2 linked regions of the Homo sapiens genome follow. The protein of the gene in region 1 interacts with the protein of each later gene in a pairwise test. Each region holds a gene or a part of one and is shown on either strand. Other genes may lie near its edges.

Region 1 (3,903 bases):
CACAGGCTACTCTCTAATCCTGGCCAAAACCTTGGGCCTCAGATCTAACCTCTGAGGCTCTGGGCTCTCAAACCAGCAGATCTGGTATAAAAGGGCTGATCCTGAAGGGCCTCTAAAGAGACATGGATTCTGTCTCCCTCCTGGGGAGACTTCACCAGCCCCTGCCAGCATTCACCACCAACCACTTGTCTTCTTCCTAGAAACCAACCACCCCCACCACGCCAGGACATCAGTCTTCTCAGAAACGTCAAGTCTGTTTCCATGTAACTGTGCAATTAAATTCTATTATATCAGGGCTCAAATATTATGTATCAATTAGATACATGTTGTCAAGTGACCGAGAAATTCAGGGCAAACGTCGTTTCAGTTGGCCTTACTGCTGTGCCCAGCTGGGGCCATACAGATGGATGAAGCTACTCAGAGCTGTGGGCCATATCCCCATATTTGATTTTTAAGAAAGTTTATGTGGAAGAAAAGAGTGATGCACAAAAGAGTTTCAGTTTTTTTTCTTTTTTTTTGAGACAGAGTCTCACTCTGTCTGTTGCCCAGGCTGGAGTACAGTGGCATGATCTCAGCTCACTGCAACCTCTGCCTCCCAGGCTCAAGCGACTCTCTTGCCTCAGCCTCCCGAGTATCTGGGATTACAGGTGCCTGCCACCACGCCCAGCTAATTTTTGTATTTTTAATAGAGACGGGCTTTCACCATGTTGGCCAGGCTGGTGTTGAACTCCTGACCTCAAGTGATCCACCCTCCTCAGCCTCCCAAAGTGCTGGGATTACAGGTGTGAGCCACTGGGCCCAGAAGAGTTTCAGTTTCTTCTTCGCTCTCCCCTCAGGATGTTGTCCATGTTGGAACTTTCCCTCCAATCTAATGGCCAGGATTCCCTGTCTCCCAACTTCCCACCTCCTAAATGACTGTGCAAGAAAAAGACTTTATATAACAGGATGGGGATGGAGAAGAGGGACTGAACTCTATTCAGTGAAGTGCTGCTCTGCATGGCTTAGAAGGGTGGGGCCCCACTGGGCTTGGTGGCTCAAGCCTGTAATCCCAGCGCTTTGGGATGCCAAGGCAGGCGGATCACCTGAGGTCAGGAGCCTGGCCAACATGGCGAAACCCCATCTCTACTAAAATAAAAATTCAAAAATTAGCCGGGTGTGGTGGTGCGTGCCTGTAATCCCAGCTACTCAGAAGGCTGAGACAGGAGAATCCCTTGAACCTGGGAGGCGGAGGTTGCAGTGAGCTGAGATGGCACCACTGCCTTCCAGCCCGGATGATGAAGCAAGACTCCATCCCCCACCAAAAAAAAAAAAAAAAAAAAAAAGGGGGGGGGGGCCCAGAGGGATAGCCCGTCCCTGACTCATCAATGACCTGCAGGCCCTTATGGCAAAGCCTCCTGGGACCCTTGAGATAACTTCTGCACCCTTTAGATGCCTTTTTACTCTTCTCCAGACATCAGAATTTGGTGGCCCACACCCACTACCTGATGCTTAGGACCTCCTGCCCCACCCTTCTAAGCCATGCAGAGCAAACCAGTCTTCTGACTGAGTTTTTACTTGGCAAGTCTGCACACACATGGAGTGGCTGCAGAGCCCACAGGAAAAGCTGCCCCGGCCAAGCCCTGGCCTCCACCTTAATCAATCCCTGGGCCCTTGTTCTCCACCCCACAGCCCTGTGCTTCAAACTTGCTCCTGTTGCCATAAGAGGACATGACACCCCTAGTTCCAGCCCACCTCCTTAGGCTCAGCCTGGGCCCCAGTGCTATTTTCCTACTGTTTATCCACGTAGTTCCTGGGATAGGATCCTCAGCTCTGCCTGGAAGTTAGTGCTGTGTGCACACACATGAACCAGGAGCCATACACCCTCTCACAACTGGCTGTGCCCAAAAGGATGATCAAGCCCAGACCTTGGCCAGCAGCGGTGACCTGCTTCTCCAGGAAGCACTGCTCAGGCCACCATCAGGAGAGTGCAGCAGCAACAAAGGCAAGCCAGACAGCCCAGAGGCATCACCCTACGTTTTGCCACATTTCTGAGACTCAAACTGGGTTGCTGTGAAGATCGGATGAGATGAGCCATGTTAGGTGTTTAGAACAGTGCCGGCATGACAACGTAAATATCGGCCGTTATTTCACTCCTTTCTCCCCATTTTCTTTGCTCCACTCTACCACACTCCCGTCTGGTACCCCAACAGCCAAGCCTACCGTCGGGGTCTTTGCATGTGCCCATGTGCCAGCTCTGCTCTTCCCTATCTTCTTCACCTGGCACACTCTGATTCGTGTCTCTGCCAAGATGCCTTCCTTGACGCCTGGGACCATGTAAGGTCCACCTACCCTTCACCAACAGCAACAAGCGCAACCACTTGCTCAACTTCTCTCAGGCCCCCTCAGCTGCAAGCTACATGAAGACAGGGATTGGCTCCACCAGCACTGCCAAGCCGCTGTGCTAGGGCTCTCAACATTCAGCAGATGTGCCTGGGATCTAAAAACATCCACAGTTCCTCAACTGTAACTGCCAAATCCAAGAAGCACTAAAACACAGAAGTTTTCTAAACTCAATTGGCAGTAAAACCTCATCCAGCCTCATTTGGTAAAATCTGATCTGATCTAATATGGGGCTATTTATAGTCTTTTCTCTCTCCTGCTGTGGCTATTCATACATTTTGCTACAGAAATAAACATGGTGGCTTATGCCATGCTGCTTCTGATCTTCCACTACAGAGTAAATTCACCAGATCATCTTTTCAAAATCCAAAAAATTCTCAATTCTGAAATACATCTAGGACCAAGAACTTCAAAACTATGAAAATGGAAGTACAAAGTTACTCATTGACTGCTAGCATCCCATGTCAAGCCCTCCAGCCCTTTAACCTGAACTCATTCCTTCGTAGGAAACACTGTTTTAAGTCTGGACTCTTGATGTAGTTTCCCAGCTGGTCCACCTGTCACTAATCTTGCTTCCCTCTCACAAACCTTCCCAACAGCAACAGCGCATCCTTCCTGACAAGTACACCTGGTCACGACATTAACTTGCTTTAAAAACCATCAGAGGCTGCACTGCCCACAAACTCAAACTCAAACTCATTATGATGACATCCAAAGCCCTTCAGACAGACTGTCTGAAACATCCCTTTTCAACCTTACCTCCAACCACTAACCCCATGGACCCTGCACTCTGGCCTCAGCAGGCTGCTTTTTCCCCAGTAAGCATATACCTGGACGCTGCTGTGTCTCTGCTCCAGCTGGTCCCTCATCCTGGAATTTGACCCACAGCGCCACCTGCCAGCCACCCACACATCCTTTCAGGCCACTTCAGGTGACTCCTTCTGTAACATCACAGACAGAGCCAGGCCTCCCTATGACTACACTCCCACAGCACTCTCTCCACGCTGTAACAGAATCTGTGGCCACGCTGACCTGACTCCCACCTTCCTCCTTAGGAAAAAAGACTCTATGACCTCTGTGCCCACCACAGTGCTTGGCACATGTATGAGGTTCAAGTGGCTGGATGGAAGACTGCTTGCACTATTACCGAAATCAGGGAGAAAGATGGCCAACGCAGCAGCAAGAGAGTGAAGTGTGACATTTTCCAGAGATGACCGCACATATCCCATTCCATATGCTCTTCTTACAAGTGATAAAGACACTCCTGCCTCCAGAGCTGAGGGTCTATGTTCCCTCCCTTTGGTTCTGGGAAGAGATGCTATGTGACTTGTGAGACTAACTCATAAAAGGCAGTAGTTTCCACCTGGTCCTCTTAAGATGCTGACTCCTAGGACCCTGCTATATGGACAGGACACTGCTACATGGACAGGACCCCCATAGGTATTCCAACTGACCACCCCAGCTAAGGTCCCAGCTGACAGCCAGCATCAACCGCTAGACACAGGAGACAGCCCTCCAGATTAT
Region 2 (3,903 bases), on another chromosome or scaffold:
GCCCTGTGGCAGCCAGAGGGCGAGCAGGGGGCTGGGTGCTCTGCTGCTGGCGTGGGTGGGGTGTGTGGTCCCTGGGCCACTCCTCTCTGCGAGGAGAGTGGAGACGGTTCCCTGAACACACAACACACACGTCTGGCCGCTGCCTGGCGTCTTGGCCCGGGAGACAGGATACCACTCACATGACCACACTTCCTCCTGCCCCAGGTCCAGCCCGCCGGGCTCTGTCCCCCTCCCTGCCTGGTGGCATGGCAGGAATTTGCCCAAGTCACACATCTGTTAGTCCTTCTGAGTGAGGCTTGGCCAGAGAAGCCCGTGTCCCTTGTGGCTCTGCTGCCCTGGCCAGGCCTTCGCTGAAGCTGCCTGACTCCATCTTCCCTTTCTAGCCGTTTATGAGGAAGCATTTCCGCAGCCTGGCGGCGGATATGTCCCTGCTCCTCCCACCCTCCTGCTTCACCCCTGCCCTGCCCTGCCCTGCCCTGCCTTGCCCTGCCCAAGGCCTGGGCCTCCCTGAAGCCAGGTTCTCCCTTGCCCAGGGAGGCCAGTCATTCTTTGCTGGGGGTGTGGTTGTACCTAGGTGCAGGATGAGGTAGCTGCGCTGGGAGGCTCTCCTGGGCTGGAGCAGAGCCTGCGTCCTGCAAGCGGGGAAGGCAGGAGTGGGGAAGGCCCCTGGCCTGCACCAGGCCCCCATGAGTACTGGCTGGGCTGTCACTGGGTATTTAGTTTTGGGGGTGACCAGAGAGAGAGGAAATCCTGGAAAGGATTTCACTTTTCCTAGGGAAGGTGAAAAGAACAGCTGTGGAGGGCGGATGTCGCTCAGAGGTCCAGGGTGCGGCTCAGTGGCCAGCGTGGAGGCTGCCACGGCCCTTGGGGGGCAGAGGTGGGCTGTGGAGGGCACGGGGTGGTGACTGTGGAGCCCGGGAGGGGCTGGAGGGGAAGGAGCCTGTGACAGCCTTGGGCTTCCAGACGATGGAGGTGGAGGGGCTGCTCCCTCCTACCACCTGTGACCTGGAAGCCAGAGCTCCCCTGGTTGAGGAAGTGGCTGAGTTAGCTGGGATGGCTCTGCCCATATGTATGGCCTGTGGGCTGTCCCCGTCCTGACAGTCTTGGCCTGAGGTGTGGGGGCAGCGGATGGGCCGGAGCTTGGGCCTGGGCTGCTTGCTGGGCAGGGCTGCAGACCTCGGTGCCCAAGTGCTCCCTCAGTGGCCTCCTGAGTCTCTGACCTTGGGCTCAGCCCCCAGCTGTGGGCCAAGTGGCACTGCTGGGGTGGGTGTGGTGGCAGGCAGAGTCTCCGGGCACCTTCTCAGGCCTTTCTTCCACAGGGGAGGCGAGGGCTGGCCCTGGCCATTGGGTTTGCTGGGAATGGCCCTGGGAGGTCCTGGTGAACTGTCCCTAAGCCAGGCAGCTCCCCTGTGGGGAGTGGACACCCTGGGACAGCCAGAGCCTGGCTGGAGCTGCTTTGGGGCCACCTCGCCCTGCGCTGAGCATGGCTTCAGGCCCTCAGCCCTCTGAGGAAGCCCTGCGTCTCCCCTTTTCCTGGCGAGGCCTGGCCTTCCAGCGGGGTGGTGGTCTGGGGTTGTTCCTGGGCGTGGATGGTGCCTTGAGGCCACCATGTGCGCAGAGGGCAGCTTGGTGCCCTAGGGCCAGCCCCCTGTGACACTGCCTTTGGGGGCTACCTGGGAGGGAGAACTGGGACCTGCAGGATGGGTGCTCGTGACTGGGGAGCCCATCTGGGTTCAGATCCCAGCCACGCCTTTCCCGGCTGGGAGTCCCTGGACACACCCTCAGCTTCAGCCTCCTGTAAAGTGCCTGTGGGGACACAGGGAGGGCGAGGATGGCCTTCTCCCTGGGCAGCTCAGAGCCCTGCTGCCAGCCCCCTCTGTCCTTGGTGAGGCGGGAGCCCCGCGGCCTCTACTGTCCCAGGGCCCAGCTCTGAGTGGATGACAGTGGCATGACTGGCCACTTTCACTGCAGGACTGGAGTCGCCTTAAGGGAGTGCTCTTGGAATTAGTCAGTTCCCTAATTTCGCCAGTGGCCATGGTCCCTCCCTGGCCGCGTGGCTTATTGCACAAGAATGGGGGAGGGGCGGCTAGAGAGAGCCGGTCAGGACCAGAGCGGTTGAGAAGGTTGAAACCCACCTCACCAACTCAGGTGGGCTCTTCCGGGTTTGGAAGGGAGGAGAACTCGAGGCTGTGGGGACCGCAGGTGTTCCGGGGCAGGGGTTCCCCTTCTGCCCTCCAGTGCTGGGGACAGGACTGCCCTGCAGCTTGGGGAGTCTTGACCTAGAATCTGGATTGTGTTTCTCAGTTCAGAAGATTTGGGGTTTTAAAAAGTAAATGATGCCAACACTCCTTTTGAGGTCTAGGGCAGTACTGCAGTTAAAACTTTAATATTTCTGCAGCAAGACATGAATATTCAGATAAAGTAGGATAAATTACGACTATAAATAGCCACACACCAGTTCAGGTCACATGTTGCTGCCAGGTGAGTTTGCTGTCAAGTGACAGCGAGTTCTGCCTTCAGCGCCTCTTGGCGTTTGAAGTTGTGGGTACGGCTGTGGAATCCTGGGGGGTAGGGAATGCTGCCCACCCTTAGGCTGACCCCAGAGCCAGAGGTGAGGGCCGAACTCTCCTGGCCAGCCCTCGGGCCTTCGAAGCCCGTTCAGAGCTCTCAGGCCCAAGTGCTCGTTCTCCCGGGCCGGGGTTCTCAGGTCTGGATCACAGCCTTCTGTTGCTGGCAGAGGCCTGAGCCTCCTGGGACAGCTGGATCTGTCCAGCTCCCGGGCGGCACTGCAGGGAAACAGGCTCGCTCTCCCCAGAGACCCGGGGGCCTTGGCCCTCCTACCCTCTCTTTAAGCGGTGTGGAGGTGGGCAGGAGGGTGGGGGTTGAATGGACCAGGGATAGGGAGGCTGCCTTAGGAGGTGCCGGAGTGGGTCCCTGGACTGAGGGGCTCAGGCCAGGGTGGCACAAACGGCCCAGCCCTGTGCTCTGGCTGAGGATGGGATGGGTCTGGACAGAAATTCCGTGGGTTGGAAGGAGGGTGTTTCCCTGTGCCTGGGAGGCCGTGGGGTCAGCACATTAGGTTTGGCCCATTGTGCTGCTTGCAGCCCCGGGGCTGGGAATCAAGGTGCTGGGAAGAGAGGCGCCGGGGCCTGGGTGGGCTGGGCTGGCGCTGCTGGAAATCCTAGCACTCAGGTGGGCCGGCGCCCTGGCCCGTGGCAGTGGGAGTGCAGCAAGAGTGAGCAGCCTTCCTGCACTTCTCAGCTCTGACAGAGTAGGTGGGTTTTGGGTCTGGATGGAGAATTAGGAAGCAGGAGGGCGCTGCTGCTCTTGGACTTGGGTCCCAGGCGCGAGCAGCAGCTGCAGGTGGGAGGCTGGTGTGGGCGGGGCCCCCAGGCAGCACTGTGAAGCCCCACCCCTGCCCATTGCACCATCACACCTGGATGTCTCTGCTGCGCCCCATGGGCGGGCTCCAGCCGGGCTCCCCACCCACACCCCTTTGCCCAGCCTCCTCCCAGGCATCTCTGGGCCTTTGAACAGGCAGTCAGCTCTGCCTGCAGCCCTGCCTCTCAGCAGCTTTGGTCCTGAGGTGAGGTGCTCAGATGGTCACTGATTGGGCTGGCTGAGGGGTGCCCGGTGACACTGGGGACCACTCTGGGGGGTGCGGGCCTCTCCCCTAGAAGGATTTCTCAGCCGGTTCACCCTCCCTGTCTGCTTTTTCATGGGACATTTTCTAACCAGAATATACAGCCAGTGTGTTTCCTGGGATTTGACCGCAGATGCCAGGAAGAAAAGGGAAGAGGAAGCTCCCCTGAGAGGCCTGAGGCCACTGGCTCCCTCCAGCTCCCCCGGAACCTGTCATGGCCATCTGTGGGGACACAGCTGGTGCTTGGCCTTCCCGAGGCT

Evidence for each region.
Region 2: the proteins of MGAT1 (region 1) and BRI3 interact in binary tests that used the Homo sapiens proteins (3 or more experiments, as listed by UniProt).

The regions. Positions count from the first base shown.
Region 1 is NC_000005.10:180,796,108-180,800,010, forward strand, and holds part of MGAT1 (alpha-1,3-mannosyl-glycoprotein 2-beta-N-acetylglucosaminyltransferase), read right to left. Parts: intron 1-3,903. UniProt on the Homo sapiens protein: Initiates complex N-linked carbohydrate formation. Essential for the conversion of high-mannose to hybrid and complex N-glycans.
Region 2 is NC_000007.14:98,284,393-98,288,295, forward strand, and holds part of BRI3 (membrane protein BRI3), read left to right. Parts: intron 1-3,903. UniProt on the Homo sapiens protein: Participates in tumor necrosis factor-alpha (TNF)-induced cell death. May be a target of Wnt/beta-catenin signaling in the liver.